Linked DNA regions of Homo sapiens: regions 1 and 3 are each linked to region 2. Evidence: fine-mapped expression QTL. A gene starts in region 2. Each other region holds a variant in brackets. All regions are shown on one strand. Distances are from middle to middle.

What was found.
Region 1: its variant is fine-mapped to the expression of S100A11 in whole blood (TOPMed, PIP above 0.99).
Region 3: its variant is fine-mapped to the expression of S100A11 in monocytes (Quach 2016, PIP 0.95).

What each region holds. Positions count from the first base shown.
Region 1 is chr1:151,753,492-151,761,672 of GRCh38, forward strand. It overlaps MRPL9 (mitochondrial ribosomal protein L9), which reads right to left. Exons shown (of 7, transcript NM_031420.4): 5 at 7,960-8,061; 6 at 7,325-7,408; 7 at 6,156-6,690. The coding sequence ends at 6,559. It also overlaps the pseudogene RPS11P3. Among named protein-coding and RNA genes, the nearest start is that of MRPL9, 5.9 kb to the right of the region's middle. The variant G/A (reference allele first, on the strand shown) is at 4,383.
Region 2 is chr1:152,032,712-152,040,892 of GRCh38, forward strand. S100A11 (S100 calcium binding protein A11) reads right to left here and starts at 4,293. Exons shown (of 3, transcript NM_005620.2): 1 at 4,202-4,293; 2 at 937-1,089; 3 at 1-112. The coding sequence starts at 4,204. RefSeq lists enhancers at 2,362-2,656, 5,754-5,913 and a silencer at 3,502-3,796.
Region 3 is chr1:151,577,537-151,585,717 of GRCh38, forward strand. TUFT1 (tuftelin 1) reads left to right here. Exons shown (of 13, transcript NM_020127.3): 10 at 1,185-1,290; 11 at 2,113-2,196; 12 at 3,406-3,506; 13 at 4,108-6,047. The coding sequence ends at 4,171. Among named protein-coding and RNA genes, the nearest start is that of SNX27, 30 kb to the right of the region's middle. The variant G/A (reference allele first, on the strand shown) is at 4,293.

The sequences.
Region 1 (8,181 bases), 280 kb before region 2:
TGGAAGTCTTCTTGGGCCAATTTTTCAGCTGGAAACAACTTGTTAAAGAGGCTACGTCTCTAGCAGAAAGGACCCTGAGACACCATGACAAGTATATAAGGTAGTAATTTTCCCAATCCTAACCCACAGGGACTTATGACCTTTTATTTTCATAAGACACAGGAGAGAAAGAGGACTATGCAAACATTTAAAGCACTGTTGGATAGAGTCCATTGACATTGACACCCTAGGATTGGAAGCTCCATTATGGACCTCTGTTAGAGTTGCAGGGTGTGGAGGCTAGGTAATAATTGTATTCCAGCTCCAGCTCTGACTCTCAGTAGGTCTACCAGGTTTACAGACTCACCTAGTAGTTACTTCATGAGTCCTTAATGGACAGTTGGAATAGACATATTTGACAGTTGGCAGAACCACCAGGTTGGTTTTTTGGTTTGTGAGGTAGGAAATATCATAGTGAGGAAGGCCAACATGAAGTGTCTGGAACTGCCTCCACCATTCCAGACCAATATAATAAATAAAAATTACTCCATTAGTGCCCTGCTTGAAGACCTAAAGAATGCAGAGGTGGTGGTGCCCATCATATTGCCATTTAATTCACTAGTCTGGCAACTGCTAAAACCAGACAGATCTTGGAGAATGAGTATGGATTACTGCAATCTCAATCAACAAATAATGCTAATTCTATCTGCTGTTCCAAATGTGATATCTTTGCTGGAAAAGATTAACGCAGCCTACATGGTATGTATTGATCTGGACAATGCACCCTTTTTCATCCTTGTAGAAAGGAAGATCATAAAAGCTTGCTTTCACTGAGATGAGCAATAATATACATTTCCAGTTTTGCCTCTGGACCATGTAAACTCTCCTGCCTCTGTCATAATATAGTCTGAAGGGACCTGGACCATTAGGACATTCCATAGGACATCCCATTACTGCACTGATGACATCATGGTAATTGTACAGGATGAACCTGAAATGATACCTGTATCAGAGGCCTTGGTAGGATAAATCTTCTTCAAATAGTAGGGCAAGAATCCTACAAATATTCAGGATCTTGCCAGATCAGTGAAGTTTTTAAAAGTCCAGTGGTCTGAAGCATACCAGGACATTCCCTCCAAAGATGATAAGGAGAAATTTTGCATCTCGTATTTCTCACCACTAAAAAGCACAATGCCTTGCAAATGTCTTGGGGTCTATTGCTAGCATATTCCATACTTGGAAATGTTGCTTTGACACAAATATCATACGTGACACAAAAGCCTGCCAACTTTGAGTGGGTCCCAGAGCAGGTAAAAGCTCTGTAGCAGGCCAAGACTGTGGTACAAATGGCCCTGCGGCTTGGATCACAAGACACCATATTATATTAGAGGTGTCAGTGGTGAGAAAAGATCATATACTGTTCGTGATAAATCCCAATAGTAAGTCACACACAGCCCCCTATAGTGCTGGAGCAATGCCATGCCATCTGAAACAGAGCATTATATACCTTTCAAAAGATAGCTCCTGGAATGCTACCGAGTACTAGTTGAGACAATGTGCTTACCTATGGGACGTTAAGTCATGATGTATTATAACCTGGGTTCTGTCAAACCCACAAGTCATAAGGCTGGGTGGGTCGACCGGTCATCCTTCATAAAATGAAAGTGGCATATGTAGAATTGGGAACAAGCAGGGCTGGAAGGCAAAAGTGAGCTACATAAGCAGGTGCCCAGATGCCCTGTCACCCACTATTGATGCACTGGTGGTGCTTTCTCAGTTTACATCTGTAGCCACATGGATCGGAGATCCCTCATGACCTGATGACAGAAGAGGAAAAAGGCTGAGCTTGGTTAATGTACTGGTTGTCTCATTAGGTGAAAGTAGGCTGGAAATACACTGTGGCTGCACTATGGCCCCACTTAGATGGCCTGTGTACCTGCCAGAAGTAAGAATATATATAGACTCATGGGCCTGGAAGGCAAACTGGAAGATTAAAAACAAGGAAGTGTGGGGAAAAGGAACATAACATACCCGAGAATGGGTATACAGTGTGATGATTTTTGTATTGCAGGTTAATTCCCATCAGATAACATCCACCACAGAAAAGGTACCAACCAAGCAGATGGAATGACTTAGCCAAATAATGTTAACCAGGCTTTGTTGCTGGCACCCCAATGCTGGCAAAGTGATCAATGAACGGAGGAGCCATGGTGGAGCAAATGCAAGGGTTCAACGTCATGGACTCATCAAGTCTGATCTAACTACTGCATCAGTGAATGTCCAGCTTGCCAGCAACAGAGACCAACACTTAGCCTGATGTCACCATTCCTCAAGGAAACCGTCTAGCCACTTGGTGGTAAGTTGATTACACTGTATCCTTGCTACCTTGGAAGGGGAAGTGTTCTATTTTGAAGGGGCACTGATGTATATTATGGGTACTGGTTTGCCTTTCCTGCCTGCACAGCCTCGGTCAGCAACACCATCCAAAGGTTTACAAAATTTTGATCCATTGGCCTGAAATCTTGTGTAACATTGCATCAAACCAAGAGACCCACTTGATAGCAAGGAGGTACAATGCTGGGCACATGATGGTAGGATTGGCTTTAATCACATACCGTACTATGCAGAAGCTGCTCCCTGATAGAGTGCTTGTTAAAAGCACAGCTAAGGCACCGGATTGGAGATGATAACCTGTAAGGAGAAGGCATCATCCTTCATGATGCAGTACATACCTGAGACCAATAGCCATTGAATAGTGTATCCTTAAGGAAAATATATGGCTCTGGGGAACAAAGGGTGGGTGTAGGAGCAGCCCGCATTATCATCACTCCCAGTGACCCAATTGAAGAAACTGTGCCTTCTATCCCAACTCTGGTCTCTAAGGGTTTAGAAGTCCTGGTTCCCAGAAGGGGAATATTTGCACCAGTGAACACACTGAATCTCACTAAACTTTAAGCTATGGCAGGCACTAGATTACTCCAAATCACTACCAAGAAACAAGGCAAGGAAATGAGTCATTATCAGGAGGTGGGGCTGCTATTACACAGTGGGGACAGGGAAGAATATATCTGGCACCCAGATCATCCACTTGAGTATGTTTCTCCTTGCCCAATTTTGATGATAAATGAACAAGTGCAGTCATAGTCTGAGAAGGGCATGATGGCCAGGTACCTCATCTGGTAACCCACGTGAACCAGAGGTACAACCCCCTCAAGGGGGTTGGGGAAAGATCAACAATAGGTAGTAGAGAAGGGAGGTGAATGCCAGTTGCAAACTCAAGCTACAGCAGCAGAGGCTGTGGCCTGTTCCAGACCTTCCTCTTTTAAGTTTCCCCAGAAAGAGATCCATCAGAATCCTGAAGAAACCATTCCAGAACTAATGAAACAAATCAGTCTGAGCAGTGCAAAGGGTGGACTGCAGTGTTGACTGTGGTGTGCTGCCCATATTTTCCCCTTGAGGACTGAAGCTGCTAAGAATGCTGACAGCTGTCACCTGTGCCTCATCCAGGGACCGCCTTTGGCTGAAGTTAGCCACCTCACTCATGATCATACCCCTTTCCTGGTCAAGTGGGGAGATAAGGTCCAGCCCACTTACCCTACTGGGGCATCCTGCAGAGCCATCCTAGTTTGAGCTCCTGATTGACTGAGGCGTTTGTTAAGACTGCATCAGCTCAATTTCTCCCTCTACCCAATTCTACTGCCTTTACTCCCCAATAGGTGTTGATGCAGATAACTCCTCCCAATAAACTTCCTGCATGTGAATCTCCAACACAGAGTGTTTTTGCCAAGAACTCAACCTATGGCAGGTATTTAAATGCTTTTTAAGGTTAGCTGTGTGAAATGTGTGCTCGTTGCTCAATTTCAGAGAGTTTCGTGATGGTCATGTTGAGAGATGCTGTGTGTGTTTAATTAGCCTACCATTTCAAGGACAATAGGAATGGGGATCATTGAAATGGCAAATTTCAGTGGGCTTGGGGCTCATGCCGAGGCTGCAGGTCCTCCCCAAACCTCAGGAGCGTGTCCAGGATGGCAGAACTCTGTGCTTCAGTTTGGGGGTTAATTCTGGGTGTCCCCAACTCACTAGGGATTAACTGGGGTACAGAAGTGTATGCATCTACTTCAATCTAGATTAGCGCTTCCTAAATACTGGGGTCTCTGCAAGTTAATGGAGGCTCAAACCTTTCAGGAAGTTCTGTTAAATCCAAGACTGAGTGTACCTACCAAAAGCAGTCAACCATCTTTCAAAACAAGAGGGTCCTGCTGGGAGATACTGGCAATGAGAAGTTCCTATAGGACCATAAGATCAGTCTGGGGCTGGGTGCAGTGGCTCATGCCTGTAATCCTAGCACTTTGGAAGGCCGAGGCGGGTGGATCACCTGAGGTCAGGAGTTCAACACCAGCCTG[G/A]CCAACATGGTGAGACCCCGTCTCTACTAAAAATACACAAAAAATTAGCCGGGCGTGGTGGTGGGCTCCTGTAATCCCAGCTATTTGGGAGGCTGAGGCAGGAGAATCGCTTGAACCCGGGAGGTAGAGATTACAGTGAGCCAAGATCGTGCCATTGCACTCCAGCCTGGGCAACAAGAGCGAAACTCCATCTCAAAAAAAAAAAAAAAAAAAAAAAAAATCAGTTTGGGCTTCAATATGCCCAAATAGGCTATGAGGGCACCTATATTTACACTGATTGCCCTTTATTGGTAACATCTCCATCTGAGGGTGGATCCTGTCTGGCATGGTGACCAAGATAAAAGATGCAAAAGATCAACATCATCCACCAAGACTATTTCCACTACATGTGTAAGTACAGTTGCTTCAAGAAGCACAAGAACATGTTCATGCACCCATCCCCTTGCATCAGGGATGTCCAGATCAGCAACATCATCATGGTTGGGTAAGCACCAGCATGAGCAAGATGGTACACTTCAACATGCTCATGGTCCCCAATGCCACCAAGAAGCAATTCCAGTTCTGAGTCTGGATGCCTGCCTACTCCCTAATGTGAAATAATGTTATTTTCCCATTCAAAAAAAAAAAAAAAAAAGAAAAGAAAAGGGTGGGGAGGGGAGAAATGCTAAATTTCAGATAGTGCCAGTGCCACACTTGAGTTACAGAGCTCTGTCAAGTATGAAGTTGGCTATAGTTATCAGTGCAACTACTGATGACAGACTTTCTCATTAGCTGAGATGGGATGAAAGTGTTTAACTGACTCAGAGTGGTAGGTGAGCTCAAATAGGAAAGAAACCAATGTCTGGTATGGATAGCAAAGGAGTCAATGATCCCATCTTTACTACCCTAAACTGCATGACCTCACATTGTATTTGAGTGACCTTGGCACAATCCACCTGAAAATGAATGTTTTTTTCTACTAATGAAACTCTGAACTTACAGAAAACTATCTACTTTCAGGCCAGGCATGGTGGCTCATGCCTGCCTGTAATCCCAGCACTTTGGGAGGCCGAGGAGGGTGGATCATGAGGTCAGGAGTTTGAGACCATCCTGGTCAATATGGTGAAACCCCATCTCTACTAAAAATATAAAAAATTAGCCGGGTGCTGTGGCACATGCCTGTAGTCCCAGCTACTCGGGAGGCTGAGGCAGGAGAATCACTTGAACCAGGGAGGCGGAGGTGCAGTGAGCTGAGATTATGCCACTGCACTCCAGCCTGGGTGACAGAGCAAGACTCTGTCTCAAAAAAAAAAAAAAAAAAGAAAAAGAAAAAGGAAAAAACTATCTACTTTCGTTTATCTCCCATCAAGACATCCATTCATCCATTCCAGAGTTACCTTTTGACTAGCTCCCTATCTTAATCTTGGTCTAGAAAATTAAGGTAACTTCTTTTTCAGAATTTCAGGAGCTGGTTCAAGGAAAAAAGTTCCCTTTTTAAGCTTCTTTCATCCCAGCTTTCCAACAATTACCCTTAGGCCTTACTCAGGTCTTAGAGAAGCAGAATCCATTGTGCTTATTCACATTGATGACTACATCAATGTATCTAAGAAGAGTAAGTGTTAAGACCAAACACATCATCAACTTGTTCAGCACAATTTGTTCATACCACAGTAACTGTGGGATGCAGTCTAAGATATTCTCTTCTTTCCTTTTTAGCAGCAAACCTCTGTGACTCAAGGAAATCTCAGTTGGATGTCCTGTCTCATCTACTCAAGACCAGTAAGCAACACTTACTTAAAAAGAACATATTCTCTTTATTTCTGCTTGGGATACAAATGTTCAGTTTGGATGATGAGAATGAGGCAAGTACTGGAGACAATGGCTGGCTCTCCTGTTTGTCCCAATAAACTCCAATGGAGGAAGAAGCTAAACAGGTTTTGGATGGTTTCGGTCTACTGCATCTAGCTTATCAAATCTACAGCCTGGTACTTCTGGAACAGGACTTCCCTGCCCCAGTGATGACAGTTAAAGATGGCAAAAATGAAGAATTCAACATGTATACGCAGTGCAGTCTGATGTCTTCAGATGTTCTCTAAAATTCTGTATTTGGTCAGAGCTGGGAGTGAGATCAGGGTGCTTGCACATTTCTGCTCCACTGCTCCCGATTCTGCTTTGCTGCCTTGGAGGGAGAGTAGATTTAGATCTGGGGGCTGGTGGGGGCCATAGCCTTGGCAGCTTGCTGGGCTAACCAGTACTTATATCTTTTGGTCTTGGGCTTCTCAAAGTTCACGACAGACATAGGCACTCTCACAGTATCAAGCCCATTTACCTGCACACAAAACAATGGGAATTCTCAGAGATCAGTCAGGTAAGTAAGATTTAGCACCACCTAATCCCAGCTTTTCACCCTGACTTTTCTCCCAGTCAGAAAAAGGAGAGCTAGGGCTGGGCACAGTGGCTTATGCCTGTAATCCCAGCACTTTGGGAGGCTGAGGCAGGTGGATCACCTGAGGTCAGGAGTTTGAGACCAGCCTGGCCAACATGGGGAAACCCTGTCTCTACTAAAATACAAAAATTAGCCAGGCACGGTGGCGTGTGCCTGTAATCCCAGCTACTAGGGGGACTGAGGCAGAAGGATCGCTTGAACCTGGGAGGTGGAGGTTGCAGTGAGCTGAGATCGTGCCACTGCACTCCAGTCTGGGCAACAGAGTGAGACTCCAGCTCAAAAAAAAAAAAAAAAAAAAAAAAATTAGAAAAAAGGGAGAGGTAGGTGCTAGGTGCGGTGGCTAACGCCTGTAGTCCTAGCTACTTGGGAGGCTGAGGTGGGAGGATCGCTTGAACCCAGGAGTTTGAATCCAGCCTGGGCAATGAAACAAAACCCTGTCTTTAAGAGAAAGGAAAAAAAGGAAAAAGTGGGGGAAAAGGAGAAAGAAAAGAAAAAAGAAAGTATGCAAAACACTCACCGTCACCTCACACCAATACTCGCCCCACCGTGTGATAGGCTCTTCTGGTAACTTTAATGTATGTGGGGCAACCACAACACCAAGCTGCAAAAAAAAAAAAAAAAAAAAAAATCTCAGCTCAAATGAACTCTGTTTTCATGACTGCCACTCTAGGGAACCTCATAAAGAGGGTTACAGGATTCCCTGCACAGGGATGAATAAAACTGGGGTGTCTACTCTGGCTGATTCCATGGGAGAGAAGGGCATACACCTTCATAGACGGTAGTAGAGAAATTCAATTCTGATTTCTCAGAAAGGGAGGTAGATTCACAAAGAGAAACAGGGCTTGAGGCCAAAACCACTTCATCCACAAAAGTAACAATTCTCCAGTGAGTCACAAATCCCCAGCATTTCCCTAGGTAGACAGGAAATAAATGGAAACCACCACCTTTTCCTATCAGTCTTCAAATTCTATGTGACCATCCTTAGTCCTTAGCCATTTCCTTCCCATATTCCTGCAAACTAACCAAGAATACTTTCCTTAACTACAACTGGATGATCACACCCCTTCCTAACAAAGGGATCAATCCCAGGCCTCCTTTCCAGAGGCAGCTTCCACCTCAGGGGTAGAGTGGTTTTTGGGAACACTCACTCACATTCTTAAAGAAGTGGCGGGCAACTATTTCAGGGTTCAGCTCCCATTTGACATTGTTCTTCATCCCTACCTCCAGGCGACAGCTTTTTAGAAATTTCACTGTCTGAAAGGAATTATGAGTTTGAGTCAAAGGAGAGGAAACATGTCAGGGTCACAGGGTATGCAAGCCAAGCAAGATGGCTCATGCCTGTAATCCCAGCACTTTGGGAGGCCAAGGTGGGTC
Region 2 (8,181 bases):
CCATAGCTAGGCCACCAATCAGATTAAGAAATTCTGAGAAATCTAGCTGACCATCACTGTTGGTGTCCAGTTTCTTCATCATGCGGTCAAGGACACCAGGGTCCTTCTGGTTCTGCAGAGAAAATAATAATTACACCTTTATATCGCATCTTCTAATGTGCTTTCAAATATGCTGCCACATTTTATTCTCACAGGAGTATAAGGTACAGGATAGGGATTATTAATATTCCCATTTGCCAGATGCAGAAACAGACTAAAAGAGGTGAAGTGACCTGCCTAAGGGGCAGACCTGGGCCTTGAACCAAAGGTTTTCCCACTCCTAGTCCAGGGCTCTTTCTATGATATTAGGGGCTATTCAGTTTTGTAAAGCCAGTGGAACACTTCTTTCAAGTGTTGCATGCAACTCCAATAGATAAACTATATAAAAGTACAGCGGGTTCAGGTGGAAAAAGGCCACAGGCCCTGCCTAATCAGTCTCATCCTCCACTTGCCCAAGCTGCCAACACAGATACAGACTTAGAGCCACTGGTTACAAATGGCTATTTACATTTACATTTACATTAACTAATTTAGAAAGTCAGTCTGTTAGTCACACTAGCCACATTTCAAGCACTCAGCAGACACATGTGGCTGGTGGCTACCATGTTGGATAGAGCAGATATAGAATGTATTTCCACCACTGCAGAAAGTTCTACTGGACAGGGCTGCCATAGAACCTCTGGGGTAGAATAATGAAATTTGAAAATAATTCCATTACGTCATATACCATTTCATATATCTCTCTTCCTAAATGGAAAAACTCCTGGCTTAGAGTGAGTTAAAATGAAGCAAGAGTGTGGGGTGTCAGTTGCTGCTCCTTCATTCCTGGCCATTCTGCCAGGGTCTTGTTTCATGTTGTGGGTAGTTTGGGGAAGTGGGGGAGACAGGGACCAGTACCTTTGTGAAGGCAGCTAGTTCTGTATTCATGAAGCTTAGGAACTCTGTCTTGGAGAGAGTGTAGTTATAACCATCCTTTCCAGCATACTTCTGGAAGACAGCAATCAGGGACTCGATGCACCGCTCAGTCTCTGTAGGGCTGGAGATTTTTGCCTTTGGAGAAAAAAAATTGCAGGGCTCAGACAAGGGAAGATGTCAAGGCTGGATACTGGAGAAAACTCCAGGGACTCTTATTTCAGGTCAAAGCAGTTTCCTAAAAGACTGAGTCATTTTTTCAAGGGGCTGAGGGGTTCAAGACAACCACAAAAAGTCACACTCTGTGACCTTCCGTCCTACCCCTCGCCACATGTTTATTCCAGGTGAAATATATGGAAGGTAAATGTGGAGCATTGCTGGCACGTTTAAAAGCAGTAGACTGCCTAGATGAGAGTGACGGTGACAAGGTTTACTCATATTTTTAAAATGTGTGGATAAATACATGTGTAACTCTATATCCACAAATCCATATGCACACCAAACATTGTCTATAGGTTAATAATTTCTTATTTTCCAAGAGTGTATGGAGGCTTTTGTGATTAATGAAATGTCAGTTCTTTTTAAAGCAATACCGAATTCCTGGGACTCACACATTTCCTTAGAGAAAACTAAAAGCATAGCTATCATTGTGTATGCAGTGGGAGATAGAACTTTTTAGATGTTTGAAAATGGCTTTCATATTTAAGAGTTAGGAACCATTAATCTTAGATGTGAGGAAACGGACAGGAGAAGGGAATGGATATGGCAGAGCCAGCCCTGGAATCTGGGCCTCCCAGTCCCTTTCTGCAGTCCTTAGCCTTGCAGGCTTCCACTTCCTGGTGGGAAATAGTGACAGAGAAGGTGGAGCTTCTCTGGAGGTCACTCCAAACCAGGAAGCTCTCAGGTTGCTGCTTACACAGCATCTACAATGTAAGAGATTTAAATCCTGTACTGGGCTCTTTCCTCACAGCAGAATTTTTCAAGGAAATTCTATAGGGCCCAGTCATCCGGTTCCCCAAGGGGACTTAGGGTCCCAAAAGTGAGGAGCTGTTGGCCTCCCTCTGGTGGGTAGAAGCCGCAATTACAGACTTTCTGGGAAACCGGCCTGGCCACACCCTTCCTCTGAGACTTTACCTACTAGCGTTAACAATGATTTATGTTTGGATGGTGACATTTGCAACTTAGCATTTAGCCTTTCGTTTGTTCTTAGGATGGACTTCCTGGAGGCCAGAGCTAGAGGCTTTCTCACTCCGTAATTAACACGTGCTAAGAACTGATCTGAGCCCTTAGCTACACAGCTGCAGATTGATTCCTCCTTCCTGTACAGCCTTTATGCTGCAGAGATCCTAGCTGAGTCTTGCCTCCCATTGCATCTTACAGCGTTAGAACCCCTGAACCCTAAGAGAGGTGGACTTTTTCCCAAGAATCACATTGTTGGAGGATGATTGTTTTTGTTTTGCTCTAAATTGAACTTTTCATTAAGAAAAGTGTTGGTAGGTTCAGGGGCCTTTAGGGGAGAAACAAAATACCACAGCCTAGAAACAGATGTGTTTGTTCTGTTACAACATGCCCTTCATATCAGGCCTAAAATCTCCCTGTCTTACTAAGGTATCAGATGACAGGAAGGAGACTGGCTGGGAGGCCACACCAGGCTGAGGAGCATGGGCTTTGTCACCTTTCTCTGGAACTACAGATTCTCCCCCTGCCCCTTTTCCTTCCAGAATGCAGACAGTTTTGCTTTTCCAGTTTCACAGTGCCTTTCTGCTTCACATTTTTCTCTCCTTAACATCAGTCTTGGTGTAATTTAGAGATTATTTTCTTTTGAAAACTGTTGCTGTTGCTATCAGCCACAAGGAGAAAATTAAAACCTCTTTGCATTTCCTCCCAGAGGTAATTCTCCAAAGTGAAAGAAAGAGACACAATTATCAAATTACTAAAATGGAACGGCATAATTTGTAGAGCTCCAGGGCACTTTGGAGATGGGTCCTGAGGACGCCCAGAAACCGGAAAGCTCTGCCCAGGGTGGCGCAGTGGCTGAAGGAGAGGAGAACCGGCGCTCTCCACACCTCATGGCACTCTTGGAGTCTTACTTGGTGGGGATGGCGATAGCAAGGAGCAAACATTATGATAAACGGATACTGTGAAATAATTTTTAAAAATGCATGCTAAGCGCTCAACATTTGAGGAAAGAAAAAAATACGATGAAAAAGACGTAGCAATTTTAAAAACCTCAACTATTGTCTTCTCATTCTTAACCAACACCCTCCGGAGCTTTCTGTCCCTGCTGTAGCAGGACTGCAACCCCAGACAGTATGGAAGGGAATGGGCGTGGCTCTGTTCCAATACTTCATTTATGGACGCTGAAGTTTGATTTCCACATAATTTTCACATGTCAGAAAGTATTTTTCTTCTTTTGATTTCTTTCAATCATTTACAAATGTAAACTTTATTCTTAGCTTGTGGGCAGAACAGAAAACCCGACTTGGCCCGCGGGCCAGTTTGCTGACTCTCCACTAAGGAGAGGTAAAGAAAGAGATTTTGGAGGTGGAATTATGGAAAATATGAGTTCAACTGGGAGATGAAAGGAGATAAGAAGAGAAAAATAAGTTACGGAGTGAGTGCCTAAATAGATGGTGGGGTAAAAGGAAGAGGAAGGAGGAGAGGGCTCAGCTGGGACCGGGTTCCTCCCACATTCTTGGCCGCGGCGCTGCGGGCGGCGACGGGCTAAAGTTTCAGTCCCGTTGGGTCTTGGCCGTCTGCCGGGTGCTTACTGAAACTTTGATTTTCCCTGGGGCTAGACGACCAAGTTCTAAAATGTCCCTTTTCTGGTGTACAGAAATAACTAGTGACCCCTCGCAGCTTTCCAGCCCCCTGCCTTAAACTTGCTCCTAGGCGTCTCTGGGCTCCCGGGAGACCGCGGGCGAGGGGCTGGAGGCAGTGACCCACGACGGGTCCCCCCCCCGCGCGGTGAGCGGCCAGCACTTCCTCTTCCCCAGCCCTGGGCCTTGTCGTGACTGGGAAGGCTAAAGAACCTCCGCTGCTACCCTAGGCGGCCACCCCAAGGATGATTTTAGGGCTTCATCCTTCCATCCCTTCTTCCCCAGTTCCCTCCCACGAGGCTGATTTTTCCTGCTGTTTCCTGCCACGTCCACACATAAGTCAAAGATAAAGTCTGCTGGGAAGTATGTGGGTTTTTTTTCTTTTCTTTTTCTTTTCATGTAAGAAGAAGAAGAAGAAAAGTGAGGCTTACCATGTTGGAGCTGAGCGAGGCGCGGGAGGCTGTGGCTGGGAGCGGCGCTGAGAGCTCTGTGCGCGCGGCGTGCGGGTCTGGAGCCTCTCCTCAACCCACGCCCTTCCCGGCCCAGCCTTGCCCAAGCCTTACTCAGACAGCTTCCGCGCCTGCCCCGCCCCTCCCCGCCTCCCGGGCTGGGCCTGGGACCGCGGCCGGCGCTAACCACAGAACTGAGCTTTAAGACTCAAATAAACCCACCGTCCTCTCCAGCGATTTAAGCAGTCTCACTCTCCCTCCTTTCCCTCTTTTCCCTCCTCTTTCCCCCCGGCCCCCTCCACCCCGTCCTGTGATTCCTGAAGATTTTTGACTTTTTAGAATTATAAGTTTTGCACAGTAGTCTTCGGGAAGTCTGTCCATGTCCGTGGGTCTTTCCCATGTATGAGCTCATTCTGGGCATTTAGGTTAGATAGGCAAAAAAGGTCTCTTTTGGAAACAGCAGTGGGCCGGGCGCGGTGGCTCAGGCCTGTAATCCCAGCACTTTGGGAGGCCGAGGCGGGTAGATCACATGAGGTCAGGAGTTTGAGATCAGCCTGACTAACATGGTGAAACCCCTGTCTCTACTAAAAATACAAAATTAGCCTGGCGTGGTGGCACACGCCTGTAATACCAACTACTTGGGAGGCTGAGGCAGAAATATCGATTGAACCCGGGAGGTGGAGTTTGCAGCGAGCTGAGATCGCGCCGTTGCACTCCAGCCGCCTGGGCAACAAGAGCGGAACAATGTCTCAAAAAACAAACAAAAACAGGCCGGGCGCAGCGGCTCACTCCTGTAATCCCAGCACTTTGGGAGGCCGAGGCGGGTGGATCACGAGGTCAGGAGATCGGGACCATCCTGGCTAACGCGGCAAAACCCCGTCTCTACTAAAAATACAAAAAATTAGCCGGACGTGGTGGCGGGCGCCTGTAGTTCCAGCTACTCGGGAGGCTGAGGCAGGAGAATGGCGTGAACCCCGGAGGCAGAGCTTGCAGTGAGCCGAGATCGCGCCACTGCACTCTAGCCTGGGCGACAGAGCAAGACTCCATCTCAAAAACAAACAAACAAAAAACAAAACCAAGAGTGTTAGTTAGGACAGAGTGCGGGTCAGAATTGTAGACAAGTTCCTAGGAGTTGGGGCTCTCTATTGCTCCACAGGGAAGATATTTAACAGTAAACAGTGGTGAGTATTGCCAAATCAATTGCCACGGGATTACTGGGGATTATTGTCAAGGGACAATTGCCACCCCTCTCTCTCAAACTTTTCTGTAAACTGAGGACAGCCACAAAGACAAAATCCGAAAACCAAACTACTGCACTTAAAAATTGATCCGTGCTAGTAAGGCATTTATCTGTGTGCAGTTTGCAATGAAATTAGGAGTTGTATTAAGAATCAGAAGACTTGGGTTCCAGTCTTGTGTCTGTTACTTCATTGCAATACTTTTGACCAGACTTGTCACTCCTTTGAGCTTCCACTTCCTTATTTGTAATAGGTCTTGAGATAGGCCTTTCCTGTTTCATAAGATTGTTAGGACTGTCAAGTAAAGTGAGGGCTTAGAAAGGTCTCCAAAAACTGCAGAGTAGACGCAAATGAAAGATAATGGGCTATAGGCATTGTGTGAACTGCTTCCCTGCACCTGCTCTCACAGGTGCCCTGAGCACGTGAGACAAATCTCCATCTCAGTTCTCAGCTACTCCAGACCCACATTTTCAGTTACTTGTTTATGAATCCACTTGAGAGTCCCACCTGCACTTCAGACTCAATAATTCAGGAATAACTAGTTTTCCCCAAACCTGTTTCTGTCTTCTCTGCTAAGGGTACTATCACTCTACCATTTTCCCTGCTTGAAAGCATTGGAGCCACTGAGTCTAAATGCCTTTTTGACTCACAGTTCTTATCAAGTGCCAGGTAATAGACTTCAAACCTTTGGTGGTGGGGGGTGTTACATGAACGGCTGCTGGGGTTCCTTAATACCTTAAAGTTACATGTAAATTTTTTGCATAAGAGAAATTTTTCTGGCGAAGAGTCCACATCTTTCATCTGATTCTCAGAAAAATTTATGATCCCAACATATTAAGGAATCATTTGTCTAAATTACTCCATAACTCAATCATGAGGCCTTACACACCACAGTTCTTTTCTTTTTTTTCTTTTTTGAGACGTTGTTTCACTCTTGTTGCCTAGGCGGCTGGAGTGCAACGGGGTGATCTCAGCTCACTGCAACCTCCGCCTCCCGGGTTAAAGCGATTCTCCTGCCTCAGCCTCCTGAGTAGCTGGAATTACAGGTGTGCGCCACCACACCCTGCTAATTTTTTGTGTATTTTTAGTAGAGACGGGGTTTCACCATGTTGGTTATGCTGGTCTGGAACTCCTGACCTCGTGATCTGCCCTCCTCAGCCTCCCAAAGTGCTGGGATTACAGGTGAGAGCCACTGCGCCCGGCCACTATAGTTCTTTTTAAGAGAAAATGCCTCACTTAGAACCTGTGCTCAAGGGGCAGCCCAGGTGGCCAAGTTTTGCATGATTTGACACACTGTGACCCTGTTAGAGTGGACTGGGTTGAAGTTAGTCTGGACACCAGCACTGCCAATCTATAGGATGGCTGGTAGTGGATGTTTCATGACATAACATGGAAAGATGAACTAGGGCCAAAAAGCTTCTTGTTTTTGGGAAACTGAAATTAGAAGCACATAGAAAATTAGGCATTTAGAAGAGCTGAAGCTGAACATTTGCATAGACAGAACCATGAAGTCATGGCAAATAAAACTTATGGAGAAGACATCATGAGTAAGTGGAAGCTATGAAATTTGGAAGAAATAGACAGAGGGGAATGTAAGCCAATTGCTAACTGTAAATTAAAGAAAAGGCTACTTGGGTGTTCGCTGAATTGTGAAAATGGTGAACCACTGGGAGTGAAGAGCCTGCAGTCTGACTTCATTAGCGTTTTTGTTCTTCCTAAACCTAGTTGTTAGTTTTTCTTACTTTCTCTATGACATTTATTCTTTCAATAACTCTTCAGCCCCATGAAGTAGCTTGAATGAAACCAAAGGAAAAAGCTAAACCAAATAAGTATGACTTGTTCAGAGCCAGGTTGGGGGATCAGCCCCACCCAGTTAGGGCTGCCTGCTTGACAGCTGCTCCCCAGGGTCACGCTGAAAGGGGTTCATTTCTAGGTTATCAGTCAAAGGAGGGAGAGTTCAGGAAAGGTAGCAGGCAAGGTAGATTTGTCAAAGCAGGCAAACAATGAATCAAACTGAAGGGCTGGAGCCAGCAAGGAGCTGAGGATGAGTGAGAGCTGGTAAACTGACAGCAAGAGACAAAAATAATATACAGATGGGTAAAAGGGCTTATCAGGAAATAAATGTAGGAACTTCCATGGCTCAAGGTAATTCTTATGTGCAGTCTGATCTCTGTGTAGCATTGGGTTGATTCTGAAATGGACACAGTACAGTGACAAATGCAATAACAGGGGTGTGACCAAGACACAATGACAAATGCCAGGAAAGAAATGAGAGGTTAACTCTGGGAGAGGAGGGAAAGTATCCTGGAAAAGTGCTGCTTGAGGTGGGTATTGAAATATAAATAAGAATTCACCAGGTGGATGAACATGGTAGTGAAAAAAGGTGAACTCAGGCAAGATAGCACAGTATTTACAGCCACAGGCTCTGCCACAAGACTGGGGTTCAAATCCCAGTGTCACAACGTATTAGCTATATGAAATCTAGCAAGTTATTTGTTGGCTCTGTGTCTCAGTTTCCTCATCTGTAAAGTGGAGAGAATAGTAGTTGTTGTGAGGATTAAGAGTTAATTCATGTTTAATGCTTAGGACTTACAGCAGTGTCTTCAGAGGAAGTTTTACATAGTGGCTTGTGCAGAATTAAGGTTCGGGATGAAACATTGTTCGTGTTCTCAGTACTTGCAGGTGGTTCAGTAGAACCAGACTTAGGGTATGGGGTGATGGTAA
Region 3 (8,181 bases), 460 kb before region 2:
ATATTTCTTATTATTTTACACTGCCCTTTGGGGGATCTTGGCTCAGTTTGCTTAGAAGATGCAAAGGAAGCAACAGTGGTTTGGGAATCAGGAGACCTAGAAACAAAATTGTGTGAAGAGGCTTTAAGGAGCCTCAAATTCTGTCTTTCTCCTCCAAATCCCTGCCAACAGCTTGATGGTGTTGAGTATAATAATCCCAGCTCCAACTGGGCATGGCGGCTCACACCTGTAATCCTAGCACTTTGGGAGGCCGGGACAGGAGGATTGCTTGGGTTTAAGAGTTCGAGATCAGCCTGGCCAACATGCTGAGACTGTCTCTACAAAAAAAATTTTTTTTTAGTTAGCCAGATGTGGTGGCATGTGCCTGTAGTCCCAGCTACATGGGAGACTGAGGTAGGAGGATTGCTTGAGCCCAGGAGGTCAACCTGGCAGTGAGCCATGTTTGCATTATTGCACTCCAGCCTGGGCTACAGAGTGAGACCCTGTCTCCGGAAAAAAAAAAAAAGAAAAGGTCGGAGAGGGAAATCCTAGCTTCTACTTGAATCTTTCCAGTAACGAGGAGTTCATTACACATGAGACTGGCCACTTTCTGACAGCTTTAATACTAAGAAAGTCTTTCCTGTGTTAATATAAAAACAGCTTCCCTGGAACCATCTACCTGTTGCTTCTAGATTTACCCTCCAGAGTTATCCAGAATGACTTATCCCTTCTAACCTTTCCGAGCCTCAGTTTCCTCTCTTAGACTAGGTGATCCCTGATGATGCTTCCAATGTAATATTCTTTTTTTTTGTGAGACAAAGTCTTGCTCTGTCACCCAGGCTGGAGTGCAGTGGCGCCATCTTGGCTCACTGCCACCTCTGCCTCCTGGGTTCAAGCGATTCTTGTGCCTCAGCCTCCTGAGTAGCTGGGACTACAGGCACACGCCACCACACTTGGCTAATTTTAGTATTCTTAGTAGAGGTGGGGTTTCACTATGTTGGCCAGGCTGGTCTTGAACTCCTGACCTCAGTGCTTCCAATGTGATATTCTAAGGTACCCACCACCTACTCTTCAGAGCAGCCTACCAGGGAATCAGGCAAAGGGAATCATATTAATGGGAACCTCCCAAGCTCAAGGCTCTTCCTGTGACTGGGTAAATAAGTGATCTTGTTCCATTGCCTCAGCCTTCTGGTCTTTATCCCCAGGGCTGCTACCCTGGAAAAGGAAGTGGCCGGGTTGCGGGAGAAGATCCACCACTTGGATGACATGCTCAAGAGCCAGCAGCGGAAAGTCCGGCAAATGATAGAGCAGGTAAGTTGGGCTGGTTTGTAACCTGCCCTCGGGGAGTCACCCCAAGTCTATGCTCTTATTTGTTTCCTAGGGAGCTTGACTTATATTCATGCATTTCCCATGTCAAACATTTATAGCTACCAATTACCAGGTTCAGGTTATTAGGATTTGCTTTTCTCCCATCTTTCCCCTACTGTTTTGTTTGTTTGTTTGCCATTTGGCCTCTGCTTTCCAATAGGAAAGGAAGGAAAAGGTTAATTTGTCATATACTCTGTGAAGAGTGTGGGTAAATGAGTAGTTGAGTCATAATAAACTCTGTTATCTGTGCAGATTATCAGTCTTTGAGCCTCATGGCTGCTTTCCTGCCTTACCCCACCTGAGCTTGAGGGTAGCATACTTAGGATTTGTCTATTTGCAGAATTGTTTTGAGAGCCTAAGGCCCCATAACTGGGAGGCTGTATGTGCTTCATGTCAGCTCCATTAGTGTCTGTTTTATTTAGTGCTGTTTTCCATTATCTCGAACAGAGTCAGTCATATAGTAAGTACTCAATAAATATGTCTTGAATGAAAAAATAATTTGTATTTTCCAAAGCCATATGGAATGGGTTTTGTCATTCATTATTTTGGATTCTCAGGGTGGTATTCCCCTCACACACTCCTCACTCCCACCCCTGGGATAATCAAGAGTCTAATATTGACTGAAAGGAGGCCTTTGTAGAAAAGCTAATGAAGTCATATGGAGTTGCAGGGCTCTGCTGCCTTCCCCAGCAGCTGGGGTGAAGTCTGGTGAGTGTGTAATGAGTCATTGCAAAATGAGCTCCAGTGTCTCCCACACCTTTGCAGCTCCAGAATTCAAAAGCTGTGATCCAGTCAAAGGACGCCACCATCCAGGAGCTCAAGGAGAAAATCGCCTATCTGGAGGCAGAGGTGTGTGTGCTGGGCAGCCCAGCAGGGGAACAGGACTCTTGAAGAGAAGGTGGACATAAGGGAGACAGAGGTTATGGGAGGGGTCTTTGTCATGTCTTGCTGTTGCTCTGAAGTGAATACCTAGGGTGGTTGGTTGACTTTCAGTTCAGCTGAATAAACATTTTCTGAGAACCTTCAGGAAGCTGCTAACAATGATGAGATGACCACCCCCCTGGCCCCACCTTCAACGGACATGTCATCATGGTGCAAGCCACATGCCATGGCTGCACACGGCTAATTCTGACCCTCCAGGCTTTGCAAAGGAGCTGGCAGTGGTGCTGGGCTGTGAAGGAGGAGGAGGCATTCATACAGATGGAGCCTTTTCCAGGGCTAGATTACGTAACGAGTTGCCTTCCTAGTCTAATTTCCACTTTGCCACAGGGCCCTACCTGTCTGTTGACTACCTGAAGATCACTTTGCGAACGCTCTGTGAAGATCCCCTGTAGTGAGGGAGAAAAATGGGAGAAAGGGTTATCTTTAGAGAGTTTGCAGTCTATAGTCAGAGATAAAATGTGTATTTTTAAAAAGACCAAAGAATGCTTTATAGAATAGCGTATCAACAAAGGCAAGTGAGTATCTCAACTGAGGACAAAAAATTATATATAGGGGCCAGGTGCAGTGGCTCATGCCTGTAATCCCAGCACTTAGGGAGGTTGAGGCGGTAGGATTGCTCGAGGCCAGGAGTTCAAGACCTAGGCAACATAGTGAGACTTTGTCTCTGAAAAAGAAAAAATTTTTTTAATTAACCAGATGTGGTGGCATGCATCTGTAGTCCAGTTACTTGGGAGACTTAAAGGAGAGGATCACTTGAACCCAGGAGGTCGAGGCTGCAGTGAGCTATAATCACGCCACTGCACTCCAGCCTGGGCAACAGAGTGAGACCCTATCTCAAAAAAAAAAAAAAAAAAAAAAGAACTGTATGTAGAGGACATATAGGAAACCATCAGTCTGTCAGTGTTGTACAGAGTTATGGAGGAGCAGGTATTGGAGGATAAGCGCAATCTATGGTAATGAAGATGAGGCAAGTGGGTATCCAGGTGGTGGCACGCATGGTGGGGGTAGAGGCAACAGCAGCATAAACACAGGCAGAGAGACCAGAATGCACTAGCTGAACGTGGCACCCGGGAAGCCAGAAAAAGGCCAACTCTAACCCCTAAGCTTGTGTTACAGAATTTAGAGATGCATGACCGGATGGAACACCTGATAGAAAAACAAATCAGTCATGGCAACTTCAGCACCCAGGCCCGGGCCAAGACAGAGAACCCGGGCAGGTGAGTGAGCGTGTGTAGATAGAATGGGGCCAGGGAGGAGGGGAGAAGGAGGGACAGAGCTCTGTAGAACCTTTAGTGCTAAGGCAAGAACAAGGCTCCTTTAAATCCAACTTTCCTCCCTCAGTCTGACCCACTGTTTGCCGGAACCATTTTCTAGCCCAATTAGAGTAGAACCTGTTAACACAAGCCCAGGGAGGTCCATGAATGGCTTCTAGAGATGTATGAACCACCTGAAATGGTAGGAAAAATTTAGTTATAATGTTTGCATATTTCTAGGGAGAGGGTATTTTGCCTCTAAGAGATTCAGAAAAGGACCCATGATCTTGACAAAATCGAGAATCACAGCTATATCCACTTCTCAGTTGTTTAACTGCCCCTCTCTTTTCTTCACCCTTGCTACAAGACACATGTATCATGCCCCAAATCTTCCCCTAGTTGTCACTGATAATTACTGTTTTAAAGCACTTGGAACCCAAGTGATCAGCCAGCACTGCAGTGTAAGATTCCAGAGGCCAATGTGAAGATTCCAGGGGCTCTGTGAAGGGTGGGCCACAACACAGCTGTTCCCAGCACAACTCAGTGTTTCCAACCTTCTTTTCAGTATTAGGATATCCAAGCCGCCTAGCCCGAAGCCCATGCCTGTCATCCGAGTGGTGGAAACCTGAGCTGCCTGGAGATGGTTGCTGCCATTGCTGCTGCCTCTGCCTCGGAGAAGCCCACTGCCCCTGTTGGCTGTTAACACTGCCTTTGACTTCCTGACTGTCCCCTGGCTGCACCCAGGACTTC[G/A]GGCTCCTGTGTCTCACCATTCCCAAGCCCCTGGCCACTCTAAGCTGGGCAGACGGAGCACGAGCACCTATTCAAGGCACTGCAGCCCTTTGGAAGACATTGTCCTGCAAGCAGGAGCCAGGGCAATATCTATATTCCTACAGTGACTATTTTTCTCTGTAGAGAGCCTCCCTTCTGTTGTAGACTGGACTCTGGCTGTGCCATAAGCCAGGCCTTCATCAGATTGGGAGAGGTGACAAGATTTGCCTCAGCCCTAAAAGCTGGAGACACAGATGTCCAGAGTGATTGGAGAATGTCCTGGGGGAATGAAGTTCCTTCCACAAACACAGCTCAGTTCTTAGCAACAAACTGTTTGTTTTTCTACTTGCTCCATCTGCAGCCTACGCTGCCCTGGCCTCCTGCAGACAGATAGTGGGGTTACCTGGCAAGGCCTGGTGAGAGCCAGTGAACCTAAGCTTTGACTGGGTGGCCTTGTCTTTCTGGGGAGGAGGGAATGTACATTCAGGGAGTAGCCTTTTGCGGAAAAATTCTCTAGGGCTACAGACAGTCATGTGTGACTTCTCTCTGCTGTGAAAACTCCCAGAGTCTCTTTAGGGATTTTCCCTAAGGTGTACCACCAGGCACACCTCAGTCTTCTTGACCCAGAGCCTGAAAACTGTTTTCACTGGGTTCCACCAGTCCCAGCAAAATCCTCTTTGTATTTATTTTGCTAAGTTATTGGTGGTTTTGCTTACATCTCATGATTGATATAATACCAAAGTTCTATAGCCTTCTCTTGCAGTATTTGGATTTGCTTGAAACCGGGAAAACTGTTCCCATTAGGCTTGTTAATGTCAGAGTGACACTATTATGAATCTTTCTCTCCCTTTCCTCTGCCTGTTTCTTCTCTCTTTCTCCTTCAAACTTGCTCTGCAGCTAAGGAAGGTGAGTCTACTTTCCCTGAGGCTTTGGGGTCAGAGTATATGTTGTTTGGAGAAAGAGGGCAATCAGGACTCTTCTGGGACCCAGATGAGTTCTTCACTAGCCCTTCTGAACCCCTTGCTCCATAATTGGTCTTTTATCCTGGCTCTGAATGACCCTGCAGGTCATCATGGTTTTCTTTTTTTATTGTTTTTTTTTTTTTCTGAGACAGAGTCTCACTCTGTCACCCAGGCTGGAGTGCAGTGGCGCGATCTCAGCTCACTGCAACCTCTGCCTCCCGGATTTAAGCGATTCTTCTGCCTCAGCCTCCCGAGTAGCTGGGACTACAGGTGTGCCACCACGCCTGGCTGATTTTTGTATTTTTAGTAGAGATGGGGTTTCACCATACTGGCTAGGCTGGTCTCGAATTCCTGACCTCAGGTGATCCACCCACCTCGGCTTCCCAAAGTGCTAGGATTATAGGCTTGAGCTACTGCGCCCGGCCCATGGTGTTTTTCTTTAGGGCTCTTCCTACAACCTTGAGAAGTAGATAGGCATCAGAGTATGGTACTATAGGAATCAGAAAAATTCAAAACAAATGTGGATTAAGTGTTTAGGCTCTATGTGGCTCACGCAGCCAGAATCCTTAAGTCTGTGTGTTTCTGTGTCTCAAGACTGGGCTCACATTCTGGCTTTGTCCATAACAATGCTCTGGGATTTCAGGGAGTTCCCTCATTTGTAAAATGAGGGGGTCAGAGCAGGTGATATCCATGTTTCTTCCCTTTCTGATATTGTTGTCTGTGGCATATTCTTTGTATGGCGAATTTAATAAATTATATTAATGTGTCTCTTTGACCTCCTGGTCTGGTTTCCTTTCACTTTTCAGGGAGGATGAAAGAAGAACATTTTAGTGCTTCTTGGAAGATGGGCACCCTGTTATCCACATGTGGGAGGTGTGGTCCAAACATCCCAAATGCCATGATATGAGGACTTTGTGGCATTTATAGAGGTATTAGAAGAAGCTCACCTCCGTGCTCTGAGTCGTGATTGTAGGAGGCAGCCCCTAACTTTAGCTTTGACCCTCTCTGGAGCAATGGCCTTGTAGGATCCCTAAGCCTGGCCGCATTGTGTCTCATTTGGAAGAGATAGAGGTAGAGTCCTGTGATTACATAGAGATAGAACAGCAGCACTGGAGGTAGATGAGTAACTGCATGCCTTCTGCAGAAATGAAAAGCACTCTGGAAATGCTGACTGCAGCTGTTCAAGGGGGTTCGTTTCTGGCTGTCTCTGGGCATCATTCAATTAGTCTCATGATTTTTTTTTTCCTTTCTGCCAAGAAGGCAGTTGACTGCAGGGCCAAATGGGGACATAGCTGAATTTACATGAATCTTCTCTGGGCCAAAGAAACCAGAAACACAACAACCCCTCATCCCTGGCTTGTTTCCTTTCTAGCTCCCATTTCTCTTCTTCAATTGAAAGAGTGTACATTTTTCTCTGATTTCTTCCCCCTTCTCCTGCTTCTCAGCCAATTCACACCACAGGCTTCAAACACATTGGAAACCTCTTTCCTTTGCAGACCCGGATTTGTCTTCTGACACCCGTGGCTCTCTTCTTTCTCTGGCAGTCTTGTTTGGCATGGCTAGATCTAGACTGTACTTGCTCTTAGAATATTAACAGGGTGGAAGCAGGGCGGGGTTGACCAAGGTGCCAAGAAGACTCACAGGGCTGGAGGAATACTGGAGTGAGTGTGCTGCCATACATGAAAGGGAGGCTCCCGCCGGGCCTCCTGTGCTCAGTGGGAGGAACCAAGATTTGGGTTGCAGATAATGGAGCAGTCTGGAGGCATTCCAGAGACTCGAACCAGGGGTCTAAGAGAGTCCTTGGACAAAAACATGCCACTGGTGTATATTTCCTAGAGTTTAGTTATGCCACAACCAAAGAGAGTAGGGGCATGACACAGGGGAGCGGGGGGCACAGGTTTGGAAAGGGAATGTAGTCAGGGAAATACAGTTTGTATCTTGGTGATCTTGTCAATTAGAGACGGAGAATGGGGAACTGGAGGAGAATGAGATGGTGTTCAGGGCCTAAAGAAAAGGTGTGGCGAGTAAGGCTCTTGGCTTTAGTGGCCTGTTTATTGCCTATGTTTTGTCATTTTTAAGCCAACTCCTCTGTGCTGCCTTAATATTTTGTGGAGGGAGGATAGAGTCTGATTCCCTGGGACCTCTGCCATGAAGGCCTGTTTCTTTGAGCTGGGTGTTGAGAGCTGCTCAGACATGCAGCCGTCATCAACAGCGTCCTGTAAACCTGGAGCGTCAGCCCAGCACGGGAAAAGAAGCAGCAGCACCCTGCCTGCCGAACAACTGCCCCATCTTCCCCATCTTCGTCTGTTCTTTCCCCTGCACAGAAAAAAGCCTGGCAGTGACACAGTATTTCAACCAAATGGTGCATTGGAACCTTTTTCAAACTAAATTTCTAAGGCCAAGAATTGATTGGCTCATTTTCATCTCTATTTAAACGTACCTTTTGCTATGATATGTCCCACTAGGAAGTGTTTCCACTTTGGAAAGGAAAGGTGCTCTGACATGGCAGGAGTTAAAGCAACTTAATTAGGCTGGGCGCAGTGGCTCACGCCTGGTATCCCAGCACTTTGGGAGGCTGAGGTGGGCGGATCACTTGAGGCCAGGAGTTTTGAGACCAGCCTGGCCAACACAGTGAAACCCCGTCTCTACCAAAAAATAAAAAAATTAGCCAGGTGTGGTGTCGGGTGCCTGTAGTCCCATCTACTCAGAAGGCTGAGGCAGGAGAATCTCTTAAACCCCAGAGGCGTAGGTTGCAGTGAGCAGAGATCGCCCACTGCACTCCAGCCTGGGCGACAGAGCAAGACTCCGTCACACACACACACACAAAAGAAAAGCAACTTAATTTGAGGAGGGTAACAGCCTTTGGGTTGGAAAAGCAAGCAGCTTTCCCTCTTTAACCAGCTTTTTAG